Regions from separate parts of the Homo sapiens genome. Here region 2 is linked to region 1. Evidence: fine-mapped expression QTL. A gene starts in region 1. The other region holds a variant in brackets. All regions are shown on one strand. Distances are between the middles of the regions. Region 1 holds the start of PAM16 (presequence translocase associated motor 16). Region 2 holds the start of GLIS2-AS1 (GLIS2 antisense RNA 1).

Evidence for each region. PIP is the estimated chance that this variant, and not a neighbour inherited with it, causes the effect.
Region 2: its variant is fine-mapped to the expression of PAM16 in whole blood (TOPMed, PIP above 0.99).

The regions. Positions count from the first base shown.
Region 1 is chr16:4,348,534-4,353,900 of GRCh38, reverse strand. It overlaps PAM16 (presequence translocase associated motor 16), which reads left to right and starts at 2,580. Exons shown (of 5, transcript NM_016069.11): 1 at 2,580-2,669. The coding sequence starts at 2,667. All of the region lies in intron 27 of CORO7-PAM16 (CORO7-PAM16 readthrough), which reads left to right.
Region 2 is chr16:4,325,170-4,330,536 of GRCh38, reverse strand. The region is part of intron 1 of GLIS2 (GLIS family zinc finger 2); the gene reads right to left. It overlaps GLIS2-AS1 (GLIS2 antisense RNA 1), which reads left to right and starts at 2,197. Exons shown (of 4, transcript NR_110901.1): 1 at 2,197-2,277; 2 at 4,043-4,107; 3 at 5,183-5,267. RefSeq lists enhancers at 969-1,969, 5,003-5,367. The variant T/C (reference allele first, on the strand shown) is at 2,360.

The DNA of each region.
Region 1 (5,367 bases):
CTGGGATGCAGCGAGGCAGGGAATTCAGGGCCTGAGAAGGTGACTTTCAGCTAAGAGCCAAGACTTGAAGGCTGATGAGGAGCCAGCCAGGGAGAGAGCCACTTCCGAGGCAAGGAAGTACAATGTGGGCACAGAGAGAGGAATGTGGAGGCCAGGAGGAAGAGGAAGAAGGGCAGCGGTGTAGAGTAGGATTCCAGGTGGCCCAACTTTCATCCCACCATTTGCCGAATGCTGTGCGCCAGATGCTCTTCCAGGCGCTTGACATCTAACAGCAGAGAAGAGAGAGGAAATGCTTGCCCAAAAGGAACTCCCATTCTAGTGGAAGGAAACAGATTCTCAACAATAAACATAAAAATAAAGGGAGGCCAAGGTGGGAGGATTGCTTGAACCCAGGAGTTTGAGGTCAGACTGGGCAACATAGGGGAACCCTTGTCTCTACAAAGAATACAAACATTAGCTGGGCGCGGTGGCTCACGCCTGTAATCCGAGCACTTCGGGAGGCCAAGGCAGGCGGATCACGAGGTCAGGAGCACGAGACCATCCTGGCTAACACGGTGAAACCCCGTCTTTACTAAAAATACAAAAAATTAGCCGGACATGGTGGCCCATGCCTGTAGTCCCAGCTACTCAGGAGGCTGAGGCAAGAGAATCTCTTGAACCCAGGAAGCAGAGGTTGCAGTGAGCCGAGGTCATGCCACTGCACTCCAGGCTGGGCAACAGGGAGACGCTCTCAAAAAGACAAAAAACAAACATTAACCACATGTGTTGGCACATGCCTGTGGTCCCAGCTACTCAGAAAGCTGAGGTGAAAGTATCACTCAAGGCTGGAAGGTCAAGACTGCAGTGAGCCATGATCATGCTACTGTACTGCAGCCTGGGCAACAGAGTGAGACCCTATCTTGAAAAAAAAAAATTTTTTTTTGGCTGGGCACGGTGGCTTACACCTGTAATCCCAGCACTTTCGGAGGCTGAAGTGGGAGGATCACTTGAACCCAGGAGGTGGAGATCGCAGTGAGCCAAGATTGGGCCACTGCTCTCCAGCCTGGGTGACAGAGCAAGACTTCATCTCAAAAAAAAAAAAAAAAGGAAAAATAATTTAAAAATAAAAAACCGGTTGGGCACAGTGTCACATGCCTATAATCCCAGCACTTTGGGAGGCTGTGGCGGGTGGATCATTTGAGACCAGTAGTTCAAGACCAGCCTGGCCAACATGGTGAAACCCTGTCTCTACTAAAAATTCAAAAATTAATGGGGCATGGTGGTCCATGCCTGTAATCCCAGCTACTCAGGAGGCTAAAGCATGAGCATCGCCTGAACCTGGGAGGTGGAGGTTGCAGTGAGGCAGGATTGTGCCACTGGACTCCAGCCTGGGCGACAGGGTGAGACCCTGTCTCAAAATGATAAATAAAATAAATAAGTAAATTATGTGGTATGGTAGAGGGTGATCAGAGTCTTGGAAGAAAAATAGAGACAAGAAGGGAGGATAAGCCAGTCACAAAAGGCTGCACATTGTATGATTCAATTTCTTCTTTTTTTTCATTTTTCATTTTTACCTTTTTTTTTTTTTTTTTTTTTTTTGAGGCAGGGCCTGACTCTGTCACCCAGGCTGGAGTGCAGTGATCACAGCTCACTGCAGCCTGTACCTCCCGGGCTCAAGAGATCCACCACTCAGCCTCCCAAGTAGCTGGGATTACAGGCACCTGCCACCACACCCGGCTAATTTTTGTATTTGTAGAGATGGGGTTTCACCATGTTGCCCAGCCTGGCCTTGAGTTCCTGACCTCAAGCGATCCACCTCGGCCTCCCAAAGTTTTGAGATTGCAGGCATGAGCCACCACGCCTGGCTTGTATGATTCCATTTCTATGAAATGTCCGGAACCTGTGAATCCATAGAGAGAAAAATGAGTGGTTGACAGGGGCTGGGGGAGGGGGCTGGGGAGTGACTAATGGGTGATGAAAACGTTCTGGAACTAATAGTGGTGACAGTGGCACAGCTCTGTGAATAAAAGGCATTGGACTGTGCACTTGAAAATCATGAAATCTACAGTGTATGGATTATATCTCAATAAAGCTGTTACTTTTTTCATTCATGGAGGGCAAGTCACGGCGTTTTAAGGGGTCCAGGTGGGCCTCATTGAGGTGACATTTGAGCAAAGATTTGAAGAAGGGAACGAGCTTCTCAGGCAGGAGGAATGTGGATGAAACCTATTTTGAAGTTTTCTATTTTCTAAAGTATTTTTGAGAATTTAGCATCCTACTCCATATTATGTTCATTGATTTCATATAATGTTGCATTCCCAAATATTTTGGCAAAATCAAGGGCAGAAATCGCCCCACGTCTGACCGATGTGCTTAGCTGCTCCAGCGCACTGGGGTAAGCACGCGGGCAATTGAGACTCCCGGTAACGCCCCTTGCCCTCCCAAGCCCGCCCCCAGTTATCCAGAGCCCGACGCAGGCTCAGTCAAACCCCGCCTCCGACCCCGCCCCGAGCCGCTAAGACGCTCCCGGTGGCCCGCCCTTAGACTGAGGCAATGCGCATGCCCAGCGCCGTATCGCGCACGCGCTCTCTGCGGCTTTCCTTGACCTCTGACCCGCCGACCACGCTTGATCCCCGGCCGCGGGGCCAGGAAGTCGGAGTTTGAGCCCCGGAGGCAGAGCGGCTGCCATGGTGAGCCCCGAGTCGGGCGCTACCGGGGAGGGGAAGCCGAGTCGGGCCGGGGGCCGGGGGCCGGGCGGCGAGCTCCGGGCTGGGCGGCGGGCGCCGTGCGCCCCCTGCGTGCCCGGCGGGAAGCATGGTCTGGGGGCGTTGCACCCGGGGGAATCGAGGCCGGCAGCGGCGGCACCGGCGGCCTCAGGGCCAGGGAAAACCGTCTGCCTGGAAGAGGCCGGGCAAACGTGGTCGCGCTGTGCCTAGCCCGCGTGTGAGCGAGCAGCCGTGGGCAGCGGTGGAGCATGAGTCTGGCTGGTGAGCGCCTCCCCTGCCCTGGAACCTTACAGCGCTGCAGAGTCGATGTTGCTGCCCTGTTGTTATCCCCAGTGGAAAGCTGGCCTTTCCAGGGAAGTGGCTGACCTGGGACTTGAACTAGGCCCCGAGACACCGAGCACGGAGCGTTTGTGTGATATCGTTGGCACGTAGAGCCAGTCAACAGACCTGCGCCACACTGTCAGGTCACCTAGGGTAGCTTTAAAAGTGCAGGTTTGGCTGGGCGCGGTGGCTCACGCCTGTAATCCCAGCACTCTGGGAGGCCGAGGCGGCGGATCACGAGGTCAGGAGTTCGAGACCAGCCTGGCCAACATGATGAAACCCGGTCTCCACCAAAAAATTTAAAAAATTAGCCGGGTGGGGTGGTGCGCGCCTGTAGTCCAAGCTACCCGGGAGGCTGAGGCAGGACAGACGCTTGAACCCGCGAGACAGAGGTTGCAATGAGCCGAGATCCGCCAGTGCACTCTAGCCTGGGCGACAGGGTGAGACTGCGTCTCAAAAAAAAAATTATATATATGTATTATATATACCGTATACATTTATGTATACTACATATTATTATGTTATATATATTTTTATATATCATGTATTTTATATATATATATACACACACACACACATAATATATACATATGTTAGCCAGGCATGGTGGCACACACCTGTAATCCCAGCTGCTTGGGAAGTTGAGGCGCCAGTATCGCTTGAACCCAGGAGGCAGAGGCTGCAGTGAACCAAGATTGTGCCACTGCACTCCAGTCTGGGCGACAGGGCAAAACTCTCTCAAAAAGAAAAAGAGGGGGAAAAAAAAAGTTCAGGTTCTTGAGCTCTATCCCTGGAGGTTCTGCACACGTAAGTTCCCCAAGTGACTCTGTTGCAGCTGGTTCGGGGAGCCACTTCTTAACTAACATAGTAATAAGGATAATGTAACAGCTAACGGCGTACAAGTGCCAGCCCCTGAGCTAAGGCTTTATGTAGAGTCTCTCATTTAGTGTTTATGAAGTCCTGCTGTCATTGTCCTTATTTTACAGATAAGGAACCTGAGCCCCAGACAGTTTTGACTCCACCATAGTCATGCATCCCATGGTGTCAGAGACCTCTTTTGAGCCCAGCTCTGTCCCAAAACTCATGGGGTTTTTTTGGTTTGTTTTTTGAGATAGGATGTCTGTCTGTCGCCCCGGCTAGGATGCAGTGGAGCGATCCTAGCTCACTGCAGCCTTGAACTCCTAGGCTCAAGCCATCCTCCTACCTTAGACCCCCAAGTAGTTGGGCCTACAGGTGAGTGCCAGCACACCTGGCTAATTTTTAAATTTTATGTAGAGGTGGGGTCTTGCTGTGTTGCCCCAGATGGGTCTCCTAGGCTGGAGTACAGTGGTACGATCACAGCTCACTGCAGCCTCAACCTCCTGGGGCTTAGGTGATCCTCCCATTTCATCCTCCCCAGTAGCCTCAGCCTCCCGGGTAGTTGGGACAACAGGCATGCTCCACTATGCCCAGCTAATTTTTTGTATTTTTTGTAGAGATGCAGTTTCGCCATGTTGCCAGGCTGGTCTCAAACTTCTGGGCCCAAGCAGTCCTCCTGCCTCGGACTCCCAAAGTGCTGGGATTATAGGCGTGAGCCACCGCACCCAGCATGACAGTATATTAACAGGAAAAGAAAGTGCTGGCCGGGCACGGTGGCTCACACCTGTAATCCCAGCACTTTGGGGGTCTCAGGCGGGTGGATCACGAGGTCAGGAGATCAAGACCATCCTGGCTAACATGGTGAAACCCCGTCTCTACTAAAAATACAAAAAATTAGCCGGGTGTGGTGGCAGGCACCTGTAGTCCCAGCTACTCAGGAGGCTGAGGCAGGAGAATGGCTTGAACCCGGGAGGCCGAGCTTGCAGTGAGCCGAAGGTCGCGCTACTGCACTCCGGCCTGGGTGACAGAGCAAGACTCCGTCTCAAAAAAAAAAAAAAAAAAAGAAAGTGCTAGGCCGGGTACGGTGGCTCACGCCTGTAATCCCAGCACTTTGGGTGGATTACCTGAGCTCAGGGGTTCGAGACCAGCCTGGGCAACACGGTGAAACCCTCTCTGTACTAAAAATACAAAAAATTAGCCGGGCATGGCAGCGTGTGCCTGTAGTCCCAGCTACTCAGGAGGCTGAGGCAGAAGAATTTCTTGAACCCGGGAGGCAGAGGCTGCAGTGAGCCGAGATCGCACTACTGCACTCCGGCCTGGGCGACAGAGCAAGACTCCATCTCCAAAAAAAAAAGAAAGTGCTGTCGGAAGGTATACATGGGAGAGCCTGGAAAGGGTTTCACCCGGGGGATGGGGAATGATATTAGGTCCTGAGGGATGTTGGGTTTTGACAGGATCAGGGTAGAAGGGAGGATGTTCAAGG
Region 2 (5,367 bases), 23 kb after region 1:
AGAGGCCTAGAGGAGAGGCATCGCAAGCCAGGGAGCCCCAGGGCGCTGGGTCGCCACCAGGGGGCAGCTGGGGATTGTGGCCTGGCCTGGCCAGCTGGGGCAGGGTTGGTGGAGTTGACCAGCTGTATCTGGCGGTTAATATATAAATATGTAGAAATTATTTTTTACTGGAGATGGTATTCTTTTAGTATCACTTCCCATGCTGTAATTTTCATCATTTTTCTTAGAATTTCTCACTGGTTTAATTTTCATTTTCTTTTTGGAAATGGAGTCTCTCAGTCACCCAGGCTGGAGTGCAGTGGTGTGATCTGGGCTCACTGCAACCTCTGCCTCCCGAGTTCAAGCGATTGTCCTGCCTCAGCCTCCCAAGTAGCTGGGATTACAGGTGTACACCATCACACCCAGCTAATTTTTCTATTTTTAGTAGCGACAGCGTTTCACCATGTTGGCCAGGCTGGTCTCAAACTCCTGACCTCAGGTGATCTGCCCACCTCGGCCTCCCAAAGTGCTGTGATTACAGGTGTGAGCCACCTCGCCCCACCTGGTGTAATTTTCCTCACATGCAAATGATCTAACAGTATCCACCGACCCAAGAACAAGGTCAACACTTCATTCTAAACCCAAACTTCACATTCAGAGCAGCAATCTTTTCCTACGCGGTTAAACACGACATTTCCTTGCGTTTGTTCATTGGGATTATTACAACTTGAAAATCTAACTGCCGCACAATCACGCTGTGAGATCCCGTCTTTCGCGGTATTGGGGTCTTTACTCAATACCAAAGGGCGGCCATGGTGGACATAACTACTACATGGTGAAATACTTTGGATATGCCCCCGTGTGTTTCCCTGGGGGCTAGCATAGCCTGTGAGTGGGGAGAGATGCTGTCCACAGGGCAGGACAGGAAGGCAGCTCCCACGTCCTCCCCTTCTGCCCTGACTCTCCAAGCAAGTAGGGCATAAAATGGTCCCCCCTTCACTGGAGATCCTCTGCTTCTAGGGACACATCCCCAGACCCCACCCCAACATGGCTGACACGGGGGTCTCAGCACAGGGGGGCTGCCCACCTCTCCCAAGGCTGCATCATCAGAGCCAGGGCAGCTGCACTAGGCCGTGGGACCTAGGTCTGCGATTCGCCCCTGTTGGAGCTGTCAGATTGTTTGAATTTGCCTCCCAGGCCATGCATGGGCCAGGGGCTCCCAGAGATGCGGTGGGGTAGGGACCACACCCCCGCTAGCAGGTGGGTGGGTGACAGTGATGGATGGACCAGGGTCCCCTCCACTGTTTCTCTGGCTGGACAGGGAGTTGCCCTCTGCCTGAACCCCTGCCAGTTCCATCTGTCTATCTGTGTGTCTATCGTCCTGCTACCTGTTTATTTTTAGACACAGGCGCAATCCAGCCTCCCCGAAGCTCCTCTGTGCTGGAAGCCTGGACGGGGAGGAAGGAAGTAAATATTTATGCTGATGAAGAATTCAGGAGCCAGGAAGGGCTGGTGGCCTGGTCCCTTGGCTGGCCTGGGGCCACAGGCCTCCCCACAGCCTCTGTCCTCACCCCCACCCCCACCCTTCCGGAGAAGGGGACCACAAGGGCAGGATGGTTTGGGAACTGGGAATTCCAGCTGACGGGGACACTCACTGGCAGCGCTGCCCAAGCAACATCCTTTGGCACCTGCCCCACTGCCTTCCCAGGACAGATGGGGACTCGGGGAGCCAGGGGCCCTGAGTCACCTTGTTCTTAGGGCCTGCAGGGGACACTTCCCCAGGAGGAGCCTGTCTCCCCAGGTGGGGCCAGCCACACGGCCCAAAGCCAGAGGGAGGACTCCAATGCACCCCCTTCATCAGCAGGTCCAGTCCCCAGGGGCACCCCCACACACTTCCTGCCACTGGGTCCTGCCAGGGAGGCAGGGGTTCATTCCAATGCAGGCCAGAGCCCGGCACACGGCCTGCGTCCCTGCCCCCGGGAAAGGAAGGAGCTGCCCCCAGCCCTACACCTCCCAGCATCCCTGTTCCAGGCCCTCCCCACCCAGAGTTTTTCCTCCAATGGAGGCCCCACCCCAGAGGGGAGACGGTCAGTGACCCTGCTTCAGTTCTGACCTTGGCCAGGCTTAAAGCCTCCCCTTCCACCCCCGCCCCGACCGGCAGCAGCCAGTTCTGGGCTCTGCTCTGTGCTTTTGTTCCCGGCTGGGTGAAGGGGGCAGGCGAGAGCTAGGTTCCTGCTCTCCTGAAAGCCTCGGAGGCCCAGAGCGGGGAGCAGCGGGCCTGCAACCAGGGAACCCTGAGTGAGTGCCCATGAGCGGGTGGCCGTGGCTCTCCCCAGCGTAAGGCCGACAGCCTGGCTCTGGACAAGCTCAGCCAGAGGCC[T/C]GGGTGCTAATTACTGCGGGGTCCCGAGGGCAGGAGCCGGCTCTCGGTCAGGTGGGGGCACCCCGTGGATGCTCCCCGGGCGCAGCGCAAGGCCCGCCGGCCCCACGCCCCTCTGCGCCTCCTGGTGGAGCCTTCCGTTCCTCAGTTTCCCCCCGGTGGGACAGCGCAGCGTGGAGGGTGCACAGAGCCCAGGGCCGCGTCTCTCGAGCACTCAGCCTGGGATGCGCCCAGGGCAGCGCCCCCACACGCAAGGGCCCAGGGGTTGGGGCGAGGGCTGGGGTTGTCGGTGGGGGGTGGGGGTGGCCGCGGAACCGGCCGCTGCGCGGCTCCTCCAGCTGCAAAAGGAACTAATTAGAGCGGGGCGAGCGGGAGGAAGCGGCTGCGGCGAGGGAGGAAGCGCGCGGGGGCGGCCGCGGGGACCACCGGGACGGCGGGGGCTTCGGGGGACCGGGCCCTGCCCTTCCCACCCACCGCAGGGCGGGGGTCACCCGGAGGGTGGGCTGGGCGGGCCCCCCGCCACCCTGGCCGAGACAATGGCTGCTATTGTGTGCCCGACCGCAGCCCGAGCAGACGGCCCCCAGCTGCAGCGCTGGCGGAGCCACCCGGCCCCCCGCCCGCAGTCCCCGGCCAGGCCAGGTAGCCAAGGATCCCGCCCTGGCAGGCGGGGCCGGCCACTGTCCCCACCCTCCCTACTGGAAGGCACGGGGCGACCCAGCACACTCAGGGAAACTAAGGCCCGGAAAAGACAGTCTCTTCCAGGGCCCCTTGGCCTGGGGTGGGTCATACACCAGAGGGGGTAAAGGACCATTAGGTACTGACCACGTGTCAGGCCCATCTGTCCATGGATTCAATGACCCCTCTACAACCCTGCCTGGCAGTAGCTGCTGTCATTTTCCCGATCTCACAGATGGGGAAACTGAGGCTTGAGATCACTAGGCTAATAGGGAGCTGGTTGGAGTCCTGCTCTGAATAAAGCTCCTTCTAGGCCAGGCGCGGTGGCTGACGCCTGTAAGCCCAGCACATTGGGAGGCCGAGGCAGGAGAATCCCTTGAGTGCAGGAGTTCTACACCAGCCTGGGCAACATGGAAAAATCCCGTTTGAAGTAAAAAAATCAGCCGGTGGCCGGGCACGGTGGCTCATGCCTGTAATCCCAGCACTTTGGGAGGCCGAGGGCGGACCACCTGAGGTCAGGAGTTCCAGACCAGCCTGGCCAACATGGCGAAACGCTCTCTCTACTAAAAATACGAAAATTAGCCGGGCGTGGTGGCAGGTGTCTGTAATTCCAGCTACCCGGGAGGCTGAGGCAGGAGAATCGCTTGAACCAGGGAGGCAGAAGTTGCAGTGAGCTGAGATCGCGCCACTGCACTCCAGCCTGGGCGACGGAGTGAGACTCCATCTCGGAAAAAAAAAAAAAAAAAAAAATAGCTGGGCGTGGAAGCAGGGACCTGTGGTCCCAGCTACTCGGGAGGCTGAGGTGGGAGGATCGCCTGAGCCTGGGGAGTTTGAGGCTGCAGTAAGCCGAGATCACACCACTGCACTCCGGCCTGTCTCAAAAAACAACAAAAAAAGCTCCTCCTTTCCTGCTTGGGGGAGGGTGGCTGGCAGGCCCTAAGCCTGTGGAGGTGCAGGGTGCACTGGGGGGCTGTGTGCACCCACCCTGAGAACCACTTGGTCTCTTTGCAGAAGGAAGCGGGTCCTCTGTAAGATGGGGCTGCATCCCTGCCCCGCTCCCAGCAGCATGGGGTCAGGTGAGTGACCAGCGTGGCAGTGTTGTCAAGGGCAATGTGAGGAACACCCCTTGCCTTGGAGTGTCCTGCGAGTGCGCTTTTGGTCAGCAGTGGCCATTTAGCTGAGAACTTGGAGACAAGGCCTCAAGATGCATCTCTCAGAAGTCTATGTGGTCACCTTTGTTTTTTTTGTTTGTTTCTTTTTTGAGATGGAGTCTCACTCTGTCACCCAGGCTGGAGTGCAGTGGCACGATCTCAGCTCACTGCAAGCTCCGCCTCCCAGGTTCACAGCATTCTCCTGCCTCAGCCTCCTGAGTTGCTGGGACTACAGGCGCCCACCACCACACCCGGCTAATTTTTTTGTGTGTATTTTTTTAGTAGAGATAGGGTTTCACCGTGTTAGCCAGGATGGTCTCGATATCCTGACCTCGTGATCCGCCCACCTCGGCCTCCCAAAGTGCTGGGATTACAGGCGTGAGCCACCAAGTCTGGCCTTTTTTTTTTTTTTTTTTTTTTTTTTTAAGACACAGAGTCTTGCTCTGTCTCCCAGGCTGGACTGCAGTGGCGTGGTCATGGCTAACTGCCGCCGAGGCTCAAGAGATCCTCCTGCCTCAGCCTGCAGAGCAGCTAGGACCACAGGTGCACCACCACCACACCCAGCTCATTTTTAAATTTTTTATTTTGCAGAGATGGGGGGGTCTCCCTGTGTCATCCAGGCTGGTCTCGATCTCCTGGACTCAAGCCATCCTCCTGTCTCTGCCTCCCAAAGTGCTAGGATTACAGGCAGGAGCCACCACGCCCAGCCCGTCATCTTCTAATTTAACAGAAAGAGGAAGTGAGTCCCTGGTCACTCCTGAACCAGTCAGAGAAACCCTGGTCTGTGGGTGTCCCTGAGTCTATTACTGGAACCATCACTTCAGCAGTATGGTCTTACAGATGGGGAAACTGAGGGCTGAAGGGGGAGGCATCCAGCCCAGGCTGCACAAGTAGGTGGCAAACCCACAACCAGAAGCCACGGGCAAGCAGCATGAGGACAGTACCCATAGCCAGGTGCGGGTACTGTGAAGGCAGGTGCTGTTTCATCCCCATTTTACAGATGCAAAAACTGAGGCTCAGGGGAGTGAAGTGACCCATCCAAGGTCCCACAGCTTGTCCGTGGCAGAGCTGGGTTTCAACCCCAGGTAAGTCCAGAAGCCATGTTCACTATTGGCCCTTCCTATGTCAGGGGCTCAGGCTTGGTACCCCCTCCCCGCCCAGGGACTTGTGGGGCTAGGAGGGATA